Regions from separate parts of the Homo sapiens genome. Here all the other regions are linked to region 1. Evidence: fine-mapped expression QTL. A gene starts in region 1. Each other region holds a variant in brackets. All regions are shown on one strand. Distances are between the middles of the regions. Region 1 holds the start of PROK2 (prokineticin 2). Region 2 has its middle 12 kb from the start of EIF4E3. Region 3 has its middle 65 kb from the start of PROK2.

The links. PIP is the estimated chance that this variant, and not a neighbour inherited with it, causes the effect.
Region 2: its variant is the best candidate, but not a certain one, in a credible set for the expression of PROK2 in whole blood (INTERVAL, PIP 0.65).
Region 3: its variant is the best candidate, but not a certain one, in a credible set for the expression of PROK2 in whole blood (INTERVAL, PIP 0.89).

What each region holds. Positions count from the first base shown.
Region 1 is chr3:71,780,559-71,788,877 of GRCh38, forward strand. It overlaps PROK2 (prokineticin 2), which reads right to left and starts at 4,590. Exons shown (of 4, transcript NM_001126128.2): 1 at 4,399-4,590; 2 at 909-1,034. The coding sequence starts at 4,494. LOC105377156 (a long non-coding RNA gene) reads left to right here and starts at 4,832. Exons shown (of 4, transcript NR_199161.1): 1 at 4,832-4,965; 2 at 5,078-5,189; 3 at 5,379-5,475; 4 at 5,659-5,869.
Region 2 is chr3:71,733,393-71,742,067 of GRCh38, forward strand. It overlaps a transcript of EIF4E3 not described here. Among named protein-coding and RNA genes, the nearest start is that of EIF4E3, 12 kb to the left of the region's middle. The variant A/G (reference allele first, on the strand shown) is at 3,507.
Region 3 is chr3:71,845,806-71,854,480 of GRCh38, forward strand. No RefSeq gene overlaps it. Among named protein-coding and RNA genes, the nearest start is that of PROK2, 65 kb to the left of the region's middle. The variant T/C (reference allele first, on the strand shown) is at 5,017.

The sequences.
Region 1 (8,319 bases):
CCTAGGACTTGTTGCAACGCCACTGGAGGCACTTTACCAATGGGAAAAATGCGGAGGTGGGACCAGAGGAAGGCAATGCAACCTGGCATTCCTGGGGTGCTCTGTTGAGACCACACTGTGTTTCAAAGGTTTTCAACCAGAAGGCCAAGAACCTCCAGCTCCACATGCCTTCTGCCTCCCACCCACCCGCTTCCTCATGTAATATAAACCTTCCTGACCCCTGTAGACAGGTGGGTCTGCAACCCTTGGAGATACAATCTCTCAAACCCTGTCCAATCCTGCCACCCTATGATCATGCCACTACTGTTAATAACTTTTCAAAAGTGTTATTTAGGTCACTGTGATATTGAGCTGACAGATAATAAAGCAAATTGGAAAATTAAATATCATCGATCTCTAAAATTTTGAAAAATGTGTCCTGTAGGTAGAGTCAAAATATAGAATATTTAAACTAACATACAAGAGTAATTGTATAATCGATTTTCTAAAAAATCCCAAAACACAGAGCTTCCTTACTTCTGCCTTATCAGTAGATCTAATATTAAAAGCAGTCTTTTTAAGAACTTCTATACTCAGATTTCTGCAAAGATGCATACTAGAGTATAATATATATTTTTGTTCTAAATAACTTTTAAGCAAATTCATGTGTTGCAAATTATATTGGTAAAATGCTTCTAACACCATGAGAGCAGTAACATGAAAACTATCACTGGAATAAGAAAGACAGAGGATACAATTCTTTGAAATGAAAGGGGAGAGGAGAGGGGGTAGTTTTACACTGTTATCCTTGCTAATGTCCAATATTCATTTTGTTTGTCGAGCACGTTACCCAGTCCTTCATGTCATACAGACCCTGCTCAGAGTTACCACAGTAGAACCACCATGAATACAAATATATATATACTAACTTTACGAGTCAGTGGATGGCAGCTGTCTCCCAGTTTGCCCATAGGTGTGCAAATCCTTATGCTCTTGACCCAGATACTGACAGCACAGCACATGCCTCCACCACATTGGGAGTCCTTGTCACAAGCCTGAAATGTAATAAACAAACAGATAAATATAGATAACAGGAAAGACTCAGGCTAAGGAAACCTAAAATTAGCAGTGAAATGCCCTTTAAATATCTAAACACTTGGACTTTAATAATCAGGTATATTTTTTAAATGATAACCTTCATTTACTTGTATATAGCTATTATAAAATCTGATCAGAATAGCTATTTCTCATTTTTCGAAAGTGGGCTAAATTCTAGCCCCTGGATTATGAAAATCTTAAATAAACATAAGATTTTTTTTTAAATGAAATCAGCTCTCTTTTTCCAGTGCTTTATGGCTGAATTGGCTTTGAACTTGAAGAACAAGACTATATTACTCTTATACTACACATGGCCATTAGGAACTACATAAATGGAATCACAAGATTTTGTGACTATTAACTGCAGAATACACTGGGGCCAATTTAAAAAAAGAGATTTAAATAGTCTCTAAATCTGGCATGAAACACTCCAGACCCATAAAGGCACTGATGTAAATTTCAGAAGTGCTCATTTTCCCCTTCAAATATTTGCATTTTGGTTCAAGAGACTTGACGTTTCTCACACCACTGACTTGCTTTTTCACCATTTTCTCTTTAAAGAAGTCTCATAGTTTGAAAGTGGACAGACCAAGATGCTTGCCTTATGTTACTCTTCCTTCAGGTGAATAAGCTGCAAAGAGCAAATTACTGGCTTAGCATAAACATATATGTACATTACAAAATCAGCTAACAATCCTGTAAGATCCATCAAATTAAGAAATGCAAGTAACAGGTGCAATTGTCAATAGTAATTACTCAAGTCACCTGCTTTCAATATAAAAGTTGTAAATACATACAATGAAACAATCAACTATGGAGGAATTTCCATACTCTAGTAAATAGAAATAAATAATAAAATCTAAATCTATTTGCATGAAAATGGATCTGAAGAACTATTATTCTTTCCTAGAACCAACAAAAAATAGAATGCTTTGTTTGAACCGTGGGCAGTAATCTGTTTTGGTAGTGATAAGATAAAAACATCCTGTACTATATATGTAAGAAACTAAAACCTCTATCATCTAGGCACAAATTTAAATGTACAATTAGTGGAAACAACTAAAACAGTCCTTCAAAATTCTTAGTTTTGAGGACAGTCATAACTTCTCAAGATATAAAAATATGGGTACATTCTTAACATTATTTCTCATTAAAAGTAACCAACTATTTTGCTTTAAAGTTCATTTACTTCCCTCATTAGAATTTATTTCTCAGTCTATTTAAACAAAGTATCTGGATAAAAGCTAAAAATTTCACCTTGAGGTGTTTGGATTTTATAGGACAATATGTAAATGTTTCAATTTTCCAATTTTTATCTGCATGCCAGAAATCATGTATATGTAGCCATTACATCCCATAAATAAGATGTCTAGTCAATGATCTTTTACAATATAGTTTTAACAAATCTATGTGGGCATATAAATCAATTTCAAAATACCTACATACACTACCCAAAAAACTGTGGATGTCAGGTGAAAGTTTTAGCCAGCATTTTATTTCAACAGATGCTCAATACCTCGAATTTTGAGGCCCCATGAGCTTTTTTTTATGAACCAATCAAAAATCCAGCCAAAATCTTTTAAAATTCAATCACCTGGATGTTTAACATGCTATACACAATGTATCTTGATAAGTTACTGAGTTTTTCATTTGAATCCAGATGGTTCCTGTCATGGAGACATAACTACATTTTATTGCCCTGTTGCTTTAGAGACATTTTTAAAATTCTCTTTTTGTAACACTGAGTTAAAATAACAACAACAAAAACAGCACACATAACTATATAATAAGCCCAGTCTAAGCCTCTCTAACAGATAGACAGCCAATGTGATAAAATTTTATTTTGTAACAAAAGCTTCAGTTCTTGGAAAATTTACAAAGAGTTGCATAGGTTTATATATTTTTAATTAGACAGCTGTTTCCTAATGCCCTTCATCCTTAACCCATTGCAAATCTATTCAGATAGTGTTGTCCTGTGAATGGAACAAAAAGATACTTATATTGCAAAGGGATCTTGGGCTCAGAGGATTAGGAGAAACTTTAAATGAGCCAGCAGGAGAAGAGGGAGAAAAAAATCCAATCATGTTTCAATTCTCATGTATTAGAAAGACCTGCAAAAAGTTTTTCTCAACCACATGGACTGGCAAAGCTATGCAAGTAATTTTTTGAAAAAATCTCTTTTCTAATAAATATCACAGAGCTTACAGTTAAATATCTGTTGGATATATACAAATGCTGTCATAGCAAAAGGACTTTCAAAATTCTATAAACCTAATAACTAATATAGAGAAAATAGAGCTTGATTTTTTCAAGACAAAGATACTTCCTTTAAAGTCAAATGATATTATCTATGTATCAACATTTCAAACATAGACGTTTTATTTAAATCCCATTATGTGCACTTAAATATTTGAAGTAATTTAATGAAGGTGTGAAATAATTCCTCACTTAAAAAACAGTAAAGAAGTTGAACAACCAGGAAATGATAGCAGTTTTGCCTTGTTAATGTAAACTAGACTATTTAGTATTGTACTGCAAACCCAATTTTTTCAGATCCACACAAAATTGTTGAGAGTGGGAGAGAACTGAACTAGTTCCTACTTACAGAAAAGATGAAAACATCGTCTCTAAGTTTAAACATCTACACAGCAACCTACTCCATCATTATGCTGGAGCACTGGAGGTGCTTTGCCAGGAATTAGAAATTTAAAACTTTTATGGGGATACCTCAAGACCCTGAGCGCGGGGGAAAGCCCCGGAACCCAGAAGGAAGCTCCCACAATTGCTTTTCAAAGCGCTCACATGGCCCTGGACCAAGCGATTTCAAAGGGTTTCTGCGGAGGACGCATCGGGGAGCAAACTCTTTGACTGTAGGATTAAGACTCTGGGCACTTGGGGAATTCGTCTTGGTCCTTTGCATTTCAGGAAGGGGCCGTCAAATTTTAAGGTTCGAGGTTGGAGAGCCTCCAAAAGTACTTGAGAAGACTCAGAGAGAAACTTCTTTCAGCCTAACAGAAGAAAAATGCGAGGAGTGAGGCCGTGGGTGATGAGGGAGAAGTAAGCGGGAGAAGGTGGTAATAAAGGTGGTGGGCGACATCCTTGTCACTGTTTCTTCCAGGACGCGCCCAGTGTCCCCAGCCGTCTGCTGCTTTTGGATCTGGGTATTTTCCCAAGTGCACCAAGGGGCGACAGGGGCAGGTGTCCCCGCCCAGGGCGACCCTCCCTTTGCCTCTAGCCTGCCCTTCAGGGTCCCCGTCCCAAGCCCCCTGGGCACATCCCAGGCGCGCATCAGGGGCAGACAGGTGCGCCCGGGCCGCTTACCCCGGTGATCACGGCGGCGTCCCCAGCGCGGGGCGTGAGCAGCAGCGGCGGCAGCAGCAAGAGGAGCAGGAGTGGGGCGCAGCACAGGCTCCTCATGGCGCCCTCGGGACTGGGCGGCCGCCGGAGGCAGTTGGGGGCGCGGGGCCCGGGTGCGCTGGGTGGAGCGCGGAGCGGCGGGCGGACGGGCGCGGCGGCTCCCGCGAGCCTCCGGGCCGTTATAAAGGCTAGCCCCGCCGTGACTCACGCCGGCGCCCGCCCGGCAGCACACGCGGGGGGCACGGCGCGGGCACACACCCCACGCCCCACGCGCACACGCGCGCCCGCCTCGGCCCGGCCGGCTCCCAGACGAGCACGTGCTATGCGCGGCCCCCCGCGCCCCCGCCTCGGGCGCCACGCAGGCAGCGCTCCCGGCGGGGCGCCCCGCTCTGCGCCGTTCCCTCCGCCGTCGCCCAGCCACCGCCTTTCGCACGCGCCGGAACCGCTTTTGTGGTCTCCGAGACACTCATTTGCTGTCCTGGTTTCCAAAGCTCCACGTGCTCAGCGCCGAAAACTTGCAAATCATTTGCTGTACAGATGTTTAGGGGTCGCCTACTACGTGCGGGGCGCTGTGGACACATAGGGGGCGGGGGGTGGGTGAGGGGGACACAGCAGCCCCTGAATCCATTCGTTTGTTCAGCAGGTCTATACTGGGCGCCCGCTGCGTGCCAGGTACTGCCACCGGCTCTCTCCTCACGGTGGAATAACTTAACAGAGAAGACAGACATCAATCAAATACCCTGGAAACGTGGAAGGCAGGGGAAAGAACAAAGGGAGAGCAAAATCGCCCCAATCCCACATCACCCGCGACGTGAAAGGATTTGTCCTTCCAGCTGCGGGACTCCTATTTGTTTATTTCAAGTCAGAGGCCTTCCCTTTATGCCCACATCTGTTCCCGACCCTCTCCTCTGATTTTCCTCACATGTATTTCCTCCCCTCTTCAGCCCCGCGCCAGCTCCAGGCACAGCCGTTCAGGGTGATGCCAAAGGGAAATGAGAACGCCTGGTTTCGAGTGCCAGCCTGAGGCCCCTTAAGCCCTAGGTACGCAGCTCTCTCTTCTTTCTTAAACTTTCCAGCCCAGGAAAATCACCCTTCGGTTTTACAGATGCGATAGGGCGTTATTGTGATTCCTTCATTCACGTAAACATGAATTGAGTGTCTAGTGGGTTCCAGGCACACCAGGAAAGAATAAGTGACAGATTTGCCCTCCATCTCTCATCCTAGCCTGGCTCCAAAAACTGCAGCCTGTTTCCCTCAACAAAAATGACGTCAAGAATACCTAGATGTGACCACACCGAACTTGCTTGCCCGTTTTGGGAAACCCAACTTTCTTCCTGAATAGTCAGAACCTCTGGCTTTCCTGGTCTCTTAAGAACCGCAAACTATTGAAAAGCAGATGCGTCTTTCAGCCTCTTTAATAAATGCAGTAAGGAGAGTTGGGACAGAGTTACTTTCAGACTGTGGGGCTCCCCCGTGCCAAAGCATTCAGACGAAATGTGGGGGATAGCGGGGGGAAGGCAGGCAATTATCTGAATGTTAAACAGCTGAATATTTGGAAACCCCAATCTTTGGCTGATTTTTAAAAACCTTTTTCACACGTGTTCTCATGTTTAAAAAACGCCTTGAACAGAAAACACAAAAGGAGTCAAACCCTTTTTTCAACTTAAAAAAATGTTAAAATTGGACTCACAGTGGAGTAAGTAGAAACAGTAGCAAGTGACAGACTTGTGGAAAGTTTCCTTTTCCAGTCTCCATGCCAACGCTAGCTCGGGAATGCTGCCGGGTAAATGTAAAAACCAGTCAACATGGATTTTAACATTCCTATGACTTTCTTTTAATGGTCTATTTCATATTCGCTACTATTGAATGCCAGCTTGGGTATTCCCTGCTTCTTCAAGCATAGAAAATATGATATGTCTACACAGGAAAAATCAGATTTCAAAAGTGGCTGGCTTCTTACACAGCTGTTTGGAAAACAGTCCTCATAAGGCTGTTTTGAAACAAGTTTAAAAAAAAGAAATAAGTTTGGAAACACTTAAAAATAGGGTTGTTTAGTTTCATGTTCTTTTGGAAATTTTAATTGCTTTAATGCTTTAGGAGAGAAATGAAGGCTCTTGATATGTCATCTTTGTATCTGAGGCCAAGTTTGAAAAATGAAGTCTGACTTCAATTGTTATAAAGGGAAAAATGAAAAAAAAAAAGAGTTTGGATTAGTCCATTAAAAAAGGTAGTTGGGACAACTTAGCAACAATGACATAGAAATGAAACAGTAGTTTATTGATTCTTTTCTATTACTGTAACCTGTTGATATTGCCACATGATCACTTCTGCCCAGGCATAACTGTATTAGGTGAAATGAGCCTTGTGTGTGTAAAGTGTAGCCTACCATATTCCAGCAGACCATCAAGGCTCAGCTTAAACGAAAATGCAATCTAGGAGCGTCTATAGAACCCAATGTTTGTGAGACAGGCTGATCAGGATTGGAATCCTGTGTGACCACTGGGCAAGTTACACAACCTTTTGAAGCCTCTGTTTCCGGTCTTGTAAAATGGTTATAAAATACCAACCTCATGGGGTACAACCCCTATGGAATTTAATAATACCTGCAAAATGCTTATCACAGTGCCTGGAACAGACTGGGAGCTCTGTTAGGGTTACCTCTTATTAAGCCTTATTATTTGGTCTCCCCTGACAATTTCAGCCAATGCTGATATAAGTCTTTTCTGTCCTGCCCACTATATTAGATTGTACACTTTTCATGATTAGGATCCTTGTGTCTAATTTTCTATGCATCCCTCTTGGCACACAGCACGATAATAGGCATATGGCAGGCATTCAGTAAGTGACCAGCAACAGGAATATGTCCCATGAAGGACAGTCCAGAGACAGTTACGAGAAGATCATATACAGTACAGACTCATGTCATGTATATGAATCCGTTAAAGGTAGTCACCAAAAAGCAAGAGAGATGGAAGCTTTACCTGGTGCAGATGATTCAGCCTGTCTCTTTACTTGGGGGCCACGTGACTGAAATGAAGTGAGCTGGGAGACACAGGCCTGTCTCACGGCAGTCAATTTGGGACTCAGGCTGACTGATAAGGCTCCATTTCAACATGTGCTTCATGATTGCCAGTGTAGTGGCCTATACTGTGACCCCTAGCAAGTTATTTTCAAGGCCTAAGCCCTGGTACCTGTGGACGTGACCTTATTTGGAAATAGGGTTTTTGCAGACGTAATCAACTTAAGATGAGGTCATGCTATATTAGGGTGGGTTCTAAATTCAATGGCTGGTGTCTTCATAAGAGAAATGGGAGGGAGAGCTGGATACAGAGACACAGGCTAGACTCCCCCCACCCCACCCCCCCCACACACACGGGAGAACATCAAGTGAAGATGGGGGCAGAGATTGGAGCAATGCTTCTACAAGGCAAGGAACACCAAGGATTGCCAGCAGCCATCAGGATCTGAAAGAGCAAGGAAGGATTCTTCCCCAGATCCTTCACAGGGAGCACGGCCTTGTCAGCCCCTTGGTTTTGGACTTTTAGCCTCCAGAACCACGAAAGAATAAGTTTCTATTGTTTTAAGCCACCCAGTTGTGGTGATTTCATTATGGCAGACACAGGAAACTAACATAGTTGGGTGCAGCCAGAGGGTTGTACACCAGCTTTCTCTGCCTGGAATTCATGCCTGTCACTTTTGCTCACTTTTTAGTGACCAAAACAAGCCACATGACAATCTGTCTTCAAGGGGACAGACAGTGCAAGTCTGTCACTGGTTTCTGAAGACAACAAGGTATCAGGTGAGCAGTGCTATATTCTACAGGAAATGAATCATTCATGGCTTGGACTCCTTAATGAGCATAATGAACTTTGAATTATATTAGTA
Region 2 (8,675 bases), 47 kb before region 1:
CGGTTCATAGATCATTTAGGGGAACATTTTGTAAGCCAGTTCTCTGAGGAAGTGTATTGTGCTTTCCGAAGCTTTATTTTAAGCTGAAATAATCATATTTATGACATAAGAAATCTTGATACAGAAAATATAAGCTGATTTGGCAAAATATTAGGAGGTTATGAGTCAGGCTGCAAAAAGACCTCCTGTACCATCTTTCCCTGTACCATATTTAACCCAAGCTTCCTGAGGGGTGGGGAGCTCACCTTTGAGGTCCTCAGAGACTATTATAAAGTACTGCTCATGTACTGGGAAGTCAATAAATATCTGAATAATGAATCCTTCTGTGATTTAAAACCATTCATTAAAGTGTAGATTGAAATACTTTATAAGTCATTTACTTCTTAAGAGCTAAGTACACTAAAGTTTGAGAAGCCATTATCAATTGATGAACAATTAGTAAAGGAAAATAAAGCAATTCTTGAAAGGAAGCTGCATTATTTGTTTTCTAAAAAAAATCATAATTACATGACATTTTTAGAACTCTAACTACTGTGCAAAATGCACCATTCAGAAACAGAAGGACACTTGCAGTGTTTAGGCCAATGAGACCCCTTCAGTTACTGAATCTCTTTTGTTTTACCATCAGCAGGAATTGCATACTCACAATACAGAAAGATCCTGTTAATTTTTCACTCTTTTCCTGTTCATTCTTATTAGTTACATATTATCTACATAATGGCAGGTTGCACCTTATGGTATTTGCTTTAAATTTTCTTAGTGTTTGTGGTAAGACAGTATCTTATTCCCAGAGGCTAAAAAGATGCACATATTGATCATACTAGGTCATCATTACAAAAGAGGAGCTCTCATGGAGGCTATGATGAACATGGTATCCCTCAGATGACTTTATACAAGTATTTGATGTCACAAATATATACTGTGGTTGACAATGATCTTGGAGATAGCTGAGTCACTTTCGTCCTTTCAAAACCTACCAGGTCACTCAGAAATACACTGTGAATTATCCTAAATTTGGGATGAGTCCCTATCATTCCTAAAATGCCTAAGGGTCATGTCTGCTTGCCTTATTGGACTAAAATATTTTATAACACATGAAACATAAATTTGTCAATTAAATGCAGTATCATGTTTTTCATAGTTTGCAAAAGCACAGTTAATGATGCAAATAATTTCCTATTTTTCATTCTGAGGGAAAATCATTAATAAAACCAAACTCCTTATTAGAATTGAAATTCAGCAGTAAGAGGGCACAAGCCACCCATAAAGGCAAGATATAAATTAGCAGTGAAAAAAACAAGCCAACTGATTATAACGTCCAGATGGAAATGAATAACTGAATCATTCTTTGTCAAATCAAATAGCATCTTAATAAGTTGTTGCATCATCTCTGTTGATTCAATTTAACTGGAAGATATCAGAAAATGACTATGACCTGCACAAGTATCTTCATTTCTCGTGCTCATTAGTATTTGGCCTATGAGTCCTCTCCTTTTATTTTGGAGGTGAATTCACCTCTAAAATGGTTTTTTGGTTTCTAATCCTCAACATCATCCCATGTTAAAAAGAAAACTGGCCCCAGGCTGGAATGAAATTATTGGAATTAAGAAACTGGGGCCCCAGTGGTTGGTCAAATCTTTTATCAGAGGAAGAATTCAAGCACTTCTTTTACCAGGCAAGCTGGTAAGTACAAGTTGTCATGGAAACAGGATGTATTCAAATTATATGAGGAATGACGTTCCCCATCTAACTAGGTGTTCATCTCATCTAAATGGGGAGAGATTGGTGTAGCTGAAATCCATTATATTTTTTTCAAATCTGCATTAAAAACAATAATTTCCTTTATTTTACATAGGAGTACACAGGCACAGAGCCTCATTCTCATAAAACGAAGAATTAAAATTACTTGCAAAAGAATTGGTGCGTAAATAAAAAGACATAAAACGAAAATGAATCCTATGATATAAATCTATTGATGCATAGTGAAGGGTGGGAGAATGGAAATCAGATAATATAATACCTCCATCTATCATGGGACATATTTTTCTTCAATAGCATTAGTAACTAGTTTTTCTACAGAATGATCCAGGCCAGAGCAGTTCTCTGCAAGTTGAGGAGACTTGCTAATAGGTGTAATGTCACCACCCTGATAACAGCAGAGCACCTTGTGAATCCACAGATTCCTAACAAAGAAACGCAATACTGTGCTAAGCAGGTACTTCCCACTCCTTAATAAGGCAATTGTTGAAAAACACATGGCACAAACTAATTTTGTGGGGAGGTTATTAGAGCATGAAGGGCCCATGAAGTCACAGCTCTACTTAAGAGGCAGCCTGAAGTTCTTTCTGGATCAAAGTAACCCAGAACATCTTTTCATTTTTTTTTTTTCAAGTGAAGATCATTTATCCACCTCCCTCCAAAAAATGAGAAGAAAACATTTTCATGTTTTACTGGTTAAAATGCTGAGGTCTTAATGAAACTCTTGTCCAAGCACTTAAGATAATAGTAATTCAAATAAAAATACCAATAGCTCCAAAATCTACAAAGAAATTTTTTAATTCAACAATAAGAAAATGAACACCATGATTTTAAAATTGGACAAAAGACCTGAGCAAACATCTTGCTGATGATATACAGATGGCAAATAGGTACCAAGAAAAGATGCTTAATATCATATGTCACTGGAGACTGCAAATTAAAACAATGAGATACCACTATACACCTATTAGAATGTCTAAATCCCGAAACGTTGGTAACACCAAATGCTGGTGAGGATGTGGAGCAACAGGAACTCTCGCTCAATGCTAGTAAGAATGCAAAATGGTACAGCCACTTTGAAAGACAGTTTGGCAGTTTATTACAAAACTAAACATACTCTTACCATATGATCCAGCAATTATACTCCTTGGTATTTACCCAATTGAGCTGAAAATTTACGTCCACACAAAAACCCACACAGAGATGGTTATGGCAGCTACATTCATAAATGCCATAACTTGAAAGGAGACAAGATGTCCTTTAGCAGTCAGTAGATCAGTAAACTATGGTACATCCAGACAATGGAATATCATTCACTGCTAAAAAGCAATGAGCTATTACACCATGAAAATACATTGGGGAAACTTTAATGCATATTACTAAGTGAAGAAGCCAATCTGAAAAGCCACATACTGTATGATTCCAACTAACATAACATTGCAGAAAAGGCAAAACTATGGAGACAGTTAAAGGATCAGGGGTTGTCAGGGGTTCAGGTGTAGGAGAGGAAGGAATGAATAGGCGGAGCAAAGATTTTTATGAAAATAAAACTATTCTGAATGATACTATAATGGTGGATACATGTCATTGGACACTCATCAAAACCCATAGAATATACAAATCCGAGAGTGAGCCCTAATGTAAACTATGGACTTTGGTTGATAATGATGTGTCAATATAGGCTCCTTGATTATAAAAAATGCACCCATCTGGTGTGGCATGTTGATAATGGAGAAGGCTATGCATAA[A/G]TGAGGATAGGATAAATGGAAAACTCCTTGTACCCTCCACTCAATTTTGCTGTGAACCTGAAACTGCTCTAAAAAAAGAAAGTCTATTAAAGAAAAATATCAACAGCAACAATAGCTACCATTTTGTGAATCCTTAACTATTCTCATCTAATTCACATATCAACCTGATGAGGTATTAACAAGTATGATTATCATCTCCCACTTTACACACCGGAGGCTCAAAATGGTTAAATAACATTCCCATCATCACCCAGCAAGAGGTATGGAGTTCAAACCCTAAGTCTGCCTGTGCTCCTAACAGTTGCAACTTCAGGAAACTTTAGGAAAAGTTTCACTTCTCCGAAGTCATCTCTATGATCTGGAAAATGAGGTGAGTCTTTGACTTATGAAAATATTCAAGTTATGCCCTAAATGTTCAAAACAGAGCACTGTGGCAGAAGGTGCTTGAATATCTGGTGTACAAAACATATGACCACCTATTAAATAAACAATTTAGAACCTGGAAAATATCAGAGTTCAACTACAAATTAATAGCAGTCTAATTTTTACTGTAAGGTGGGTTGAGCCACCTGCTTTTAGAGAGTGACTGCTTAAGAGGAATAAACCCTTGGATTCAAGAATCTCAATGAACTCCAATCACAAAAAACATGAAGAAAATCACACCAAGGCAGGGCAAGGGCATAATCAAACTGCTACAGTGCAGAAAAAAAGACACATTTTATACAGAGGAACAAAATAAGAATTAGGCTGGGTGTGGTGGCTCACATCTGTAAACCCAGCACTTGGGGAGGCTAAGGCAGGGGGATTGCTTGAGGCCAGGAGTTCAAGACCGGCCTGGGTAGCATAGCAAGAACTCTCATCTCTACCAAAAAACAAACAAACAAACAAACAAACAAAAAACAACAACAACAGAGATTTTTTTCATAGGAAATCATACAACTAAGATGATAACAGAACAATCTCTTTAAAGTACTGAAAGAAGAAAACCTGTCAACCTAGAATTCTATACTCAGTGAAATATCTATTCAAAAATGGAGAAGATTCTCTGCCAGAAAGATGGAATAAGACATGCTTTCTCAATTCCTCCCACGAAGTATAGTGAAAAACCCTGAACATTATATAAAATAAACATAAGAAGACTCTGAAAGAGGCCAAAAAGTGGAATACCAGTTAGGGACCTCAGTAGTTAAAGAACAACACAGCAATAACTTCCCTGGGTTTTCTTTTTGTCTCATATCTCTTAGACTCAGAGATGGAGAAGCTGGCAACCTGAAAATGCTAACAAGCGCAGACAAGAAGAGTCTAGTTTCTCTAGCCAAAGGAGCAGCCTTGCAAGACAGAAAACTAACTATGCCAGCCAAATGCAACAGAAAAAACTGTGATCCTTCCCCTACCTAAGCCAGCAAGGCCAAGTGAGAATCTTAGACTTTTACCCCCACCAGGTAGAGTGGATTAAATAACAAGCAAATACACAACAGCAAAAAAACGTGACGCAACAAAATGCTATTTATAAAAAACTCACTTCAAATACAACAATGTGGGTAGGTTGAAAGGGAAAAAAAATGAAAAAAGAGATATCATGTAACAATAACCCCACAAAGTTAAGAGTAGCTATATAAATATCAAATAAAGCAGATTTTAGAGTAAAGTTAACAGAGACAGAGAAGGACATTACATAATTATAAAAGAATCAACCCTCCAGGAAGACATAATGATCCTACATATATGTGCACCGAACAAGAGAGGCTCAAAATACATGAAGCAAAACTTGACAGACCTGAAAGGAGATAGGCAATAGAAAATTATAGCTGGGAACTTCAACAGCCCACTCTCAGCAATGGATAGAACTGCTAGACAGAACATCAGCAAGGATATACAAGAAATGAACAACAAATCAGACAGCAGGATCTATTTGTCATATATAGCACTTTAGCAGAACACAATTTTTTTTTCAAGAGTTCATGGAATATTCACCAAGATAGATTACATTCTGAACCATAAAACAAAACTTAACAAATGTAAAATAAATCAATACCAGAAAAAGAACCAGAAAATTTCCAAATGCCTGAAAATTGAACAGTATATATATATATATATATATATATATATGGGTTAAAAAGGAAGTCTCAAAGAAAATTCAAAGATACATAGACCTGAATGAAAATGAAAATACAACATATTAAAGCATGTCAGATGCAGCTAAAGCACTACTGAGAGGGAAACTTACAGCACTAAATGCTTACATTACAAAAGAGGAAAGGTTTCAAATTAACAGCCTAAATTCCTACATTAAGAAACTAGGAAAAGAAGAGCAAAGTAAACCCAAAGCAAGCATAAGGAAGAGAAAAATAAAGAGCAGAAATTAATAAAATAAAAAATTAATAAAATCAAAACAGAAAAATAATAGAGAAAATCAGTGAAACAAAAACAAAAAGAGAGAAATAGAGATGTTTTCAGATATGCAAGAGCTGAAAGTATCCACTACCAGTAAATCAACACCATAAGAAATGTCACAGGCTGGGAGTAGTTGCTCATGCTTGTAATCCCAGTACTTTGGGAGGCCAAGGCCAGAGGATCACCTGAGGCTATGTGCCCCAGACCAGTCTGGGCAACATGGTGAAACCCTGTCTCTACCAAAAAATTAAAAAATTAACCAGGTGTGGTGGCGCATGGCTGTAGTCCCAGCTACTCAAGAGGCTGAGGTGGAAGGATCACCTGAGCCTGGGAGATTGAGGCTGCGGTGAGCCGTGATGGCACCACTACACTCTAGCCTGGGTGACAGAGTGAGACTCTGTCTGAAAAAAAAAAGAAATGTCATGGGAATTCCTTCAAGAAGAAGGAACATGATGCCAGAAGGGAACGTAGATGTACAGAAAGAAACAAAGGGCACTGGAAATGATAACCACATGGGTAAAATATAACATAATTTTGGTATTTTTAAAATCTCTTTAAAAAATAATGACTGTTTAAATAAAAATAATAACAATGTACTATGGGCTTTATAACATGAATAAAAGAAAAATCTATGACAATAACAGCACAGAAGTTGGGAGGGAGAAATGAGAATATGCCACTGTAAATTGTTATAGTGTATGTGAAGAGGTATAATATCACTTGAAGGTAGACTGTGATAAGTTAAAAATGTACACTGTGAATCCTAAATAAAGCACTAAAATAACAAAGCAAAGAATTATAACTAATAATCCAACAAAAGAGATAAAAAGAAATTATAAATAATATTTAATTAATCTAAAAGAAAGCATAAAAATAGGAAAAAGGAAGCAAAGAGCAGTTAAGACAAATAGAAAACAAAAAGCAAGATGACAGATTTAAATCTTACCATATTAATATTCGCATTAAATGTACAGTTTAAATATTCCCAATTGAATTTCAGCCATTATTTGGTTGAATATAAAAGCAAGAACCAACAATAAGGCTGCCTACAAGAAATGCACTTTAAATATAAAGGCAACAATAGATTAAAACTAAAGGACAGAGTGTGCATTTTTCTTTCTGCATGTAGTAGACTCAAACATTCCATTTAACAGATATTGGCCAGTCATGGTGGCTCCTGCCTGCAATCCCAGCACTTTGGGAGGCCAAGGCAGGTGGATCGTTTGAGTCCAGGAGTTTGCGACCAGCCTGGGCAACATGGCAAAACACCATTTCCACAAAAAATACAAAAATTAGCCGGGCATGGTGGTGTGCACCTGTAGTCCCAGCTACTTGGGAGGCTAAAGTGGGAGGACACCTGAACCCAGGAGGCAGAGGTTACAATGAGCTGAGATCGTGCCACTGCACTCCAGCCTGGACGATAGAGCAAGACCCTGTCTCGAAAAACAACAAAACGAAACAACCAAATATTTACTGAGTACCTACTATTGTCCAGGAATATATGAGAAAACCTGTTAAAGGAACAAAAGAATTGTAAGAATTCATTAAAAACCACACATCCCAGCCGGCCGCGGTGGCTCACGCCTGTAATCCCAGTACTATGGGAGGCTGAGGTGGGTGGATCACAACGTCAGGAGATCAAGACCATCCTGGCTAACATGGTGAAACCCTGTCTCTACTAAAAATGCAAAAAATTAGCCGGGTGTGGTGGCATTCACCTATAGTCCCAGCTACTTGGGAGGCTGAGCCAGGAGAATGGCTTGAAACCAGGAGGCAGAAGTTGCAGTGGATGTGACTGCACCACTGCACTCTGGCCTGGGCAACAGGGTGAGACTCCATCTCAAATAAAATAAAATACAATAAAAACAAAAAAACACATCCATGCACATGCACATGCACGCGCACACACACACACACACACACATCCTGGAATCCCAGGCATAGATTGTAAGCAAAAGTAGGAGTTACATTGATCCTTAGCTTGATGTTATGAGCATATCCTACAATGAAATAATTTTTAAAGTAAAAAAAGAAGGTACATTGTGCTAATTCTAATCAAAAGAAAGCTGGAGAGGCTATATTTATATCACACTAAGTAAATTCCGGAGCAAAGAATATTATTTGGAATGAAGAGGGTCGATTAGTAATATAAATGAGTCAGTTCATCAAGAGGATATAATAATTCTAAATATTTTTTACTCCTGATAACAGAGCCCCAAGATACATGAAACAAAAACTGTTAGAAGTGCAAGGAGAAATACAAATCCAGAATTATAGCCAGAGATTTCAACACTCATCTCTCAATAACTGCTAGAACAAGTAGACAGAAATTTAGTAAGAACATAAAAGATTTCAACAACACTATCAACCATCTTGACCCAACTGACATTTACAAAACATTTCACCCAACAACCATACAAAACACATTCTTTTCAAGGGTACACAGAATGTTTACCAAGATAGACCATATTCTGGGTCATAAAAGTCTTGATAAACTTAACAGAACTCAAGTCATACAAGTATGTTCTCTGATACAGTGGAATTTAATTAGAAATCAATAATAGCAAGATCTCTGGGAATCCCCCAAATACTTATAAACTAAATAACACACTTCTCTATAACTCATGGATCAAAAAAGAAATCAAAAGGACATTAGGAAGTATTCTGAAATGAATGAATATAAAAAAACACCTATCAAATTCATGGAATTCTACCAAAACAGTTCTTAGGGGAAAATTTATAACACAAATGCCCGAATAAAGATCTCAAATAGAT
Region 3 (8,675 bases), 65 kb after region 1:
AATTGGCAGTCATAAGTTTGCTTTTTTACTTGATAGTCTTGAATATGCTTTCTGTGACAAGTATTATATTCCTGAAACTTCTACACTGAACACCCAGAGTGAATAATTGCATAAAATGTAACAATGAGATATTTATAAATATAATATTTTTCTATTCAACGATTACATTTTTCTATAAGAAGAGTTTGATGTATATTTAATGCTAGACCTACTTTAAAATATGTACACATTACTAAAGGGAAAATGCATTAAAAGAAACCACTGTATTATCAATTTCTGGTAAAGCTTAAAAATGTTGTCATTAATTATAGATGGAGCACTTTTCCTGTGATATATTCCTATTTGTTTGACACCTGGCAGGGCCTGCACCAATTTATTCACTTTCTCTGTTACACAGCATTCAATCCCTGGGGCCATTATTTCTGAGGGAAACCAAGTAACATAACCAGAAGCCTCCATGAATGATTCATACTAGAACACTCTAGAACATGCTGCCCAATGGGATATGCTGACTGACTAATCCAAATTGATGGCTGGAGCTTCTGTGGTGTCACAAGGAAGTGATCCACTTACCAGATCCTCGAGATTAGCTAAACCCTTTCAGCAGCTGCTGAGCCTCATAGGTCTCCCCTTGTCCGCACGTATTATCTGCAACGTTATCGGGATAGAGCATTTCCTAAACAAACGCACGCGCATAAACACTGTAAAATAGCTGCTTGTCTCTGGCACCTCCGAGACACTTAGTAGCGTCTTTATCTCTTTTATATTGAATAACCTCTTCACTAGTATAGAAGCAGTGCATTTATATTTATAGAAAATTAGGAAACACAAACAAAAACTTCACCTTACCATCACCCAGAATCACCATATGTTAGATCTTCGTCCATATGCTTCCGAATCTTTATGTATTTGTACATATATTTGTATTTATATACACACATATTAGTATGTATTCTGCTTTACCAGTGTGAGATGACACTCCACTTACTGTCTTAAAACTTACATTTTCAGCCAATGATCTTTACCTTTCCACTTCAGTACTTTTTTTTTGAGACAGGGTCTCACTCTGCCGCCCAGGCTGGAGTACGGTAGCGCAAACACTGCTCACTGCAGCCTCTACCTCCTGGGCTCAGGTGATCCTCCCACCTCAGTGTCTTGGGTAACTAGGACTACAACTACTGTCACACTGGGCTAATTTTGTTGTTGTTGTTGTTGTTGTATTTTTTGTAGAGACAGGGCATCACTATGTTGCCCAGGCTGGTCTTGAATTCCTGGGCTCAAGTGATCTGTCCACCTCAGCCGAGCCACTGTGTCTGGCCCACTCAGTATATTTTTATGTCATTGAATAGCTAAACCATATTCAAATTTCACCAATTAAGCTAAAAAGACCTTTATAACTGGCTTGTCCTCTCCAGAAATCCTCTCAAGAATCAAATCTGGCTGATATAGTCCTTATTTCTACCCAGTCTATCCTGATTTCCTTTTTGATGACATTGGCTTGTTGAGGACACTGGACTGGTTTTCCTGTGGAATATCTCACCTTCTAGATTTGTCTGATTGCTTCCTTACTGTGCCATGTAGCTGATTCCTGTACCCCTCCATCTCCTGCAAATGATAGGTTAGATCTAAAGGACTGATGGATTCAAGACAAGCATTTTTGGCTAGAATATACCATAAGGGATTCTGTATCTAGAACTACACTACTCAGTGTGGTAGCTACCAGCCACATGTACCCATTTAAATTTAAGCTTAAATAAATTAAAATGAAAAATTCAGTTCCTCAGTTGTATTAGCCACATTTCAAGTGCTCAATAGCCCCATGTGGCTAGTGGCTACCACTTAGACAGGGCAGATATGAAATATTTCTTTCATTGAAGAAAATTCTACTAGACATACTAACTAGAGAATGAGTCCATTTCTCCATCTCTTGAATCTGGGCATCACTATGCAACTTTGTTCAGCCAATAGGATACTAATAAACATCATGCAATCAGAGGCTCGGAAAATGCTTGTGTACCAGGGCTTTCCCTCTTTTGCTATTGAAACCTCGAGACCACCACGTGAAGGAGCTCAGGCCAGCCTACTGGAGGATGAGACACCACATGGAGCATGGCCCCAGCTAGTCCAGATGAGTTCCCAGAGATGTGAGTCAAGCCATCCTAGATCATCTCAACAGACCATGTGAAGGGAGGCCTCAGCCATCCAGCCATCTCTGCTAACTGCCAGACATTTGAGTGAGGTCATCTGGGATCCATCAGCCCCAGCTGGGCCACCAGCTGTCCGTAGAGACCAATAAATTTGGCCCAGACAGAAGAACCAACCAGCTGACCCACAGAGTAATAAAGAATAAGAAATGATTATTGTTTTTAGCCACTAGATTCTTTGAATGATTTGTTACTCAGCAATAAATAACTGACACATGATCAGAAAGGAATTTATATAATGTTACTTTGGTCCTATGTCTTGTTCTGTATCCCACTCACTTAATATATAAATCTTGCCTAAATCAATAATTTCATTAGGTTTTGCAAGATCAGGTTTTCAACCTTTATCGTTTCTTCTACGTTCATTAACTGGTGTTCTTTTGTAAAGTAGAGATTCTCTTCAACAGGTGGGCTAGTTGGCTATCCTGTCATATAGTTCCTACTGGAAAAGGCAAAATGTTTAATTTTTTTCCTTTAATGACCAACTAAAAAGTAAGGAGTGGTTTAATGGCCATCTCGTATAATGTCTTTTCAGGCTTTCTCTTTTTTTAGTATCTTTATGAAGTCACACATTTCATTTATTAAATACATTTTATCTATAATCATTATTTTATTAAATTTTATTGTGGTAAGAAAACAACATGAGATTTCTCATTTACAAATTAAAAATTTGTAAAAAAACCCACAAATTTGTAAGTGTTCAATACATTATTGTTGACTGGGGGCACCATGTTACACAGTAGATCTCTAGAGCTTATTCATCTTGCTTGACTGGAACTTTATGCCTGTTGTTGCCTCTGTCCCAGAGCTCCAGCTCCTGTCAACCACCATTCCGCTTTTTTAAATTTTAGTTTTTTGAGATGGGAGTCTCATTGTGTTGCCCAGGCTGGTCTTGAACTTCTGGGCTCAAGCGATCTTCCTGGCTCAGACTCCTGGATAGCTGGGATTACAGGCATGAGCCACTGTGTGATTCCATAAATTTGACTGCTTTAGGTACTTCAAATATGTGGAATCATGCAATATGTTGCTTTCTGTGACTGCTTTACTTAGCATAATATTCTCATAAAGTTCAGCTATGTTGTCACATATAGTAGAAATTTCTTCTTTTTTAACTTTGAATAATATTCCACTGTGTGGATATACCACATTTCACTATTAATTTTCTCATGAACATTTAGTTTTTTCCATATCTTGGCTATTATGAATAACCATTGTATATGGTATAAGGATCCAATTTCATTCTTTAGCAGATGGATAGCCAGTTTCCCATCATTTATTAGAGACTGTCCTTTCCCCATTGTATATCTTGATACCCTTATTGAAGACCAGTTGACCATGTATTATGCACGGATTTATTTCTGGGCTATTTGCTCTATTGGTCCATATGTCTGTCTTTATGCCAGTATAGACATATATACTATACTGTTTTCATTACTGTAGCTTTGCAATATATTCTGAAATTGGGAAGTATTATGCTTCCAGCTTTGGTCTTCTTTCCCAAGATTGATTTTGAATATTCCTTCCTGTGGTCTTTTATGGTTCCATATGAATTATAGAATTCTGTTTTTGTAAAATATGTCATTAGGATTTTGATATTGTATTGAATTTGTAGATCACTTTGGAAAGTATGAACATTTTAACAATACAGTAGTTCCCCCAACAATTGTCTGCAGGTTTGCTTCCTATGGTTTCAGTTATCCACAGTCAACCACATTCTGAAAATATTCAATGAAAAATTACAGAAATAATTCATTAGTTTTCAATTTTGTGCCATTCTGAGCAGTGTGATGAAATCTCATGTTATGTTGCTCTGTCCTACCTGAGACATGAATCATCCCTTTGTCCAGCATATCCATCTTATATATGCCACCCACCCATTAATCACTTAGCAGTCATCTCAGTTATGAGATTAAAAAACATAGTATATTTAGGTTTCAGTACTATCTGTGGTATGAGGCATCCACCAGAGGCCTTGGAATGTATCCCCCATGGATAAAGGGGGACTTTTATATTAAGTCTTCTAAATGATGAACATGGATGTCTTTCCATTTGTTTGTGTCTTGTTTAACTTCTTTCATCAATGTTTTGTAGTTTTCAGCATTCAAGTCTTTCACCCCCTTAGTTAAGTTTATTCCAGTATTTTACTTTTTTGGTGCTATTGTTAGTACGATTATTTTCCTAATTTCCTTTTCAGGTAGCTCATTGTTAGTGTATAGATATGCAACTGATTTTGATATGTTGGTTTTGTGTCCTGCTACTTTACTGAATTTATTTATTATTAATAGTTCTAAAGGATTTTCTAATGGAGTCTTTAGGGTTTTCTATATATAACTTCATGTCATCTGCAAACAGGGACAATTTTACTTCTTCCTTTCCAATTCAAATGCCTTTTATTTCTTGTTCTTCTTAATCGTTATTCTTTTTGATGCTCAGTTGACCCATCTGTAACCAGAAGAAGCCCCTTCATACTGCCTTCTAAGTTATTTTGACACAAATCTACTAATCCTGGAAATTTACTTGCTCTCTGGTAGAACAAGCCGCCTCCGGCTCACCAAGTATCTTCTTTGCTTCAGACTCGCCATTTCTCTAAGGAGTGCCAGGTCCTTTAAGAAGGATTTTCTTCTATTGAAGAAAATCCAGGTACTGTGGTGTTCATTTCTACTGAGGTGACATGACTTGCAGGCCATTCCATTTATAGAAATATAATTTGGTATAAGGACTTCCTTTCCCAGGCTCCTCATTTTGCTCTTTGTTCTCAAATTAGCTCACAGCAGTTCTCACTCAAGGTGCAACCCTCTCCTGTGTTTGGTCA[T/C]TGGGAGATTTGCAGTTTGTAGGAAATTTCAGCATTCTGCTTTCCTTCCTGTTGCACCATGGTTGATTTCATGCCAGTTCTGCTACCTTGGGGTTTGAGGTTTTCTAAAATCTCTTAGTTTTGCTAAAGATGTTGATGTTGTCCATGAGTTTTGTCTTTTCTTATTCATGATGTTCTGTGTGCTTTTCAGAAACTGTAGTAGAACAATTGAAAACCGAGTGCTACAATCCCTATACTTAATCCTCAATGCGTGGGCAAGTGACCCAGGCCAGGTTCATCAGAATGGTTCATCCTCCCGGTCATGGTTATTAGTCAGAGAAAGGCACTATTCAATCAAAAGCCATGTGGTCCTTTTGCTGGAACTGTTGGGTTAGAGGAGCCTAATTCTTCCCGTGGTCTTTTGTGGTTCCATATGAATTATAGAATTCATATGAAAGCCTGGAATTGCTGATAGCTAATGGAGAGACCCTGACTGACTGAGCCTGAAGCCAGCATAGAGAAGAGAATGGAAAGGTGAAAAGAGATAAACTGCTGAGGACTTCATTTGAGCATCTGGGTCTGGCATTCCCTGGAGCCAGACCAAACCTAGGTTTTTCACTTATGTAATTTTAAAAATTCCTTTTGGTTAACTAAAATAATTAGGATGAAGTGTTTATCCCAGCAAGTGGCACACAGTAAGCCCCCAATATATGTTATCATTGTTATTTTTGAAACCAATTTGAGTTGCGTTTCTATCATTTGCAACTACAATAATAATGACAACTAAGAAAATAATACCAAAGATTTTTGAGAAGTGTGCTAGGTACTTTACATATTACTTCACTAAATCCTCACTTCAAGCCATGAGGTAAGTATTCTTATTCACATTTTATAGAGTTGAAAAGGAACTGAAGCTTCAAGAAGCTTAAGTACTTTGGTCACAGAGCTAGTAAGCTGAGATTTCAACCTTAGCATTTAGTGCCTCAAATCACTTAAAAATTATTTGTGATTTTTAAAATAATTTAAAAATATAGGCACTTAATTGAAATCAGCCAGAAAATCACCTATAACATTATGCTTTGTCAAGAGATATGTCTGTGTGTTTAGAGTCTACGCTTTGTTAATGGCTCATGAAGTTGGAAGCTGCGCTGATTTTCCCAATAGTGCACTGTAATGGCTTTATACCAGATTTTATAACCAAATGCCCAATTTTACTTTGCAGAGCTCTTCATGTTGATTTCTTTGAAAACTGCCAATTCCAACAATTAGCAGAGTAGCTGAACAACTGAACATAGTGGGATAAAGAAGACCAGATTTCTAGGACAATGCCTTATTTATGAGAGGAAATTCTATTCAGCAGCCTCTCGCTTCCAAAGCAATGAAATTTCTTCTCCTAGACAAATAGAACAGCATGTTTCAAAATATGCACTCTTCACCATTTAATGGAAATTTCATGAAAGTGTTACAAATGGAATTAAATTACTATCCATTTTTCTTTTTAAATATGTTCAGTAATAAATAAGTTTAACCAAAGTGGTGTTATCATTATACATTCATTTTAACCCCATTTCTTTTTTTTTTTTTTTTTTTTTTTTGAGACGGAGTCTCGCTCTGTCGCCCAGGCTGGAGTGCAGTGGCGGGATCTCGGCTCACTGCAAGCTCCGCCTCCCGGGTTCACGCCATTCTCCTGCCTCAGCCTCCCAAGTAGCTGGGACTACAGGCGCCCGCCACTACGCCCGGCTAATTTTTTGTATTTTTAGTAGAGACGGGGTTTCACCGTTTTAGCCGGGATGGTCTCGATCTCCTGACCTCGTGATCCGCCCGCCTCGGCCTCCCAAAGTGCTGGCATTACAGGCGTGAGCCACCGCGCCCGGCCTTAACCCCATTTCTTTATGGCACCTTTGTAATAATCATTCCATTAATAAGCTCTAATGCTTTTCTACTTCCTTCAATGGAAAAAAAAAACAGTAAAAGGAAAAAGAAAAAGAATGAAAATACTCTGTCCCATCAACATCTAATTGGAACTTCTCTGGGGAAAGATTTATTTTTTAAGTACGATTATATAGCTTTTAATGTCTAGGATAATTCTCTTAAGTTTACAGCCAGCCTGTGTCTGGAAAAGTAATTAAAATAATACTATGAGTTAGGTACTATTGTTGTCCCCATTTTACAAATAAGAAATCACAGGCTCAGAGAAGTTAAATGAGCTGAGAAGCAGCACACAGCTAGTCAGTGAAAGGATATAAACCTAGATGATTAAACATTTATGCTTGCCGTTTCTACTTTTTCTCTTCTAATGAGTTTATTGAAGACTTGGGAGTTGGAAAGGATAACTCACATCTGCTCCAGGAATTGCCACTTCCAGAGCCTACTGTCCTGAGCTTATCCTCGGGGACTTACCTGCTTCCCAGGAGACCTCCACAAGCCAAGGATACAGCTAAGCCACCCGCCGAGAGATCAAGGTCTCCCATACGGAGGAGAAAAGTTTTCCCTAGCTTCTTATCATTCCCAGGTTGACTTCTCAGTCCCTAGAATGACAGACAGTGCTAACATCCAATTCCAAAGAGGGAGGCCCACCACCGTACCACCTGGTCTGCTCTCAGAATCCTGTTCCATATGGAACGCAGCAGGTCAGATGCTTGGTGCCAGGCATGGTAAAATGGAAAAATGCTGAAGGCTGTGTCTGTTGGGCATGTGCCATCTTATAGAAATGGAAAGTAGATTCCAAACATTCAATAATCTCATGTTACGGTTCATGAGTACCTTAGAATCAACTGAATTTTCACTTTTCATCTATTGTAGGGGATAGGTGTTAGAAGGATCCACGAGGATGGCTTCCACCTTCCAGCAGTGGTCGGCAATCCCATGACTGGAATTGGTCCCTATTGATCTTCGGTGGCATTTTGTCCAAGGTCACTGCTTACCTCCAATCTGATCCTTATTTTGGAGGCAGTGCAGCACAGAGGAAAGAACTAGGCACTGGTATCTCAGAGATTGGGAATGGAATCCCCATTCTGTTTCTCACTAGCTGTATGGTCTTGAGCAAGAAGCTTTCACATTCAGATCTTCAGCTGCCTCATCTAATATCCAATAGTGATAGTGAAGAATAAAGGAGACAATATATGGAGATTATTTAGCACATGCCTGGCACACAGTGGGTATCTTAGAAAGAGTAGCTTTTGTGTCTTCAACTCAGCTTTTAGAGAGCATTCATGTTTTACTGATCCATTTCCTACTGCCCTCCTCGGTAGCCATGAACCTAGCATGTGCCTTAATATGTGTTCAGTAAATATTTGCTGAATGATGAATACGCGAATAAATGAATGAATATGAAAACTGTCTATGATGTCTAGAGGGACATTTGAGCAATCTCATTTTTTAGTCGTGGAGAGCAATATCTGCTATTTGGCAGATAGCATTATCAGGAATCATCAGAAAGCATGCAGAGTTGTGAAATGTCAATGCACCCATCCTTTGAAGAGTCGGCACTTCTGCCAAAGCTGCACAGAGCAGAAAGCTAGCTGGAAATGAACAGTGGCCTTCTCCATCACGCTTCAGCCCCAGGAGAGCAATGGGGGTTGCCTTGGGAGCAAGTACCCCATCACTGAATGACTAGACAGCTAGCAGCACCCAGGAGGGCCCATGGGCTGCTGGGCATTGGGTTGAGAGCTGGGAAACAG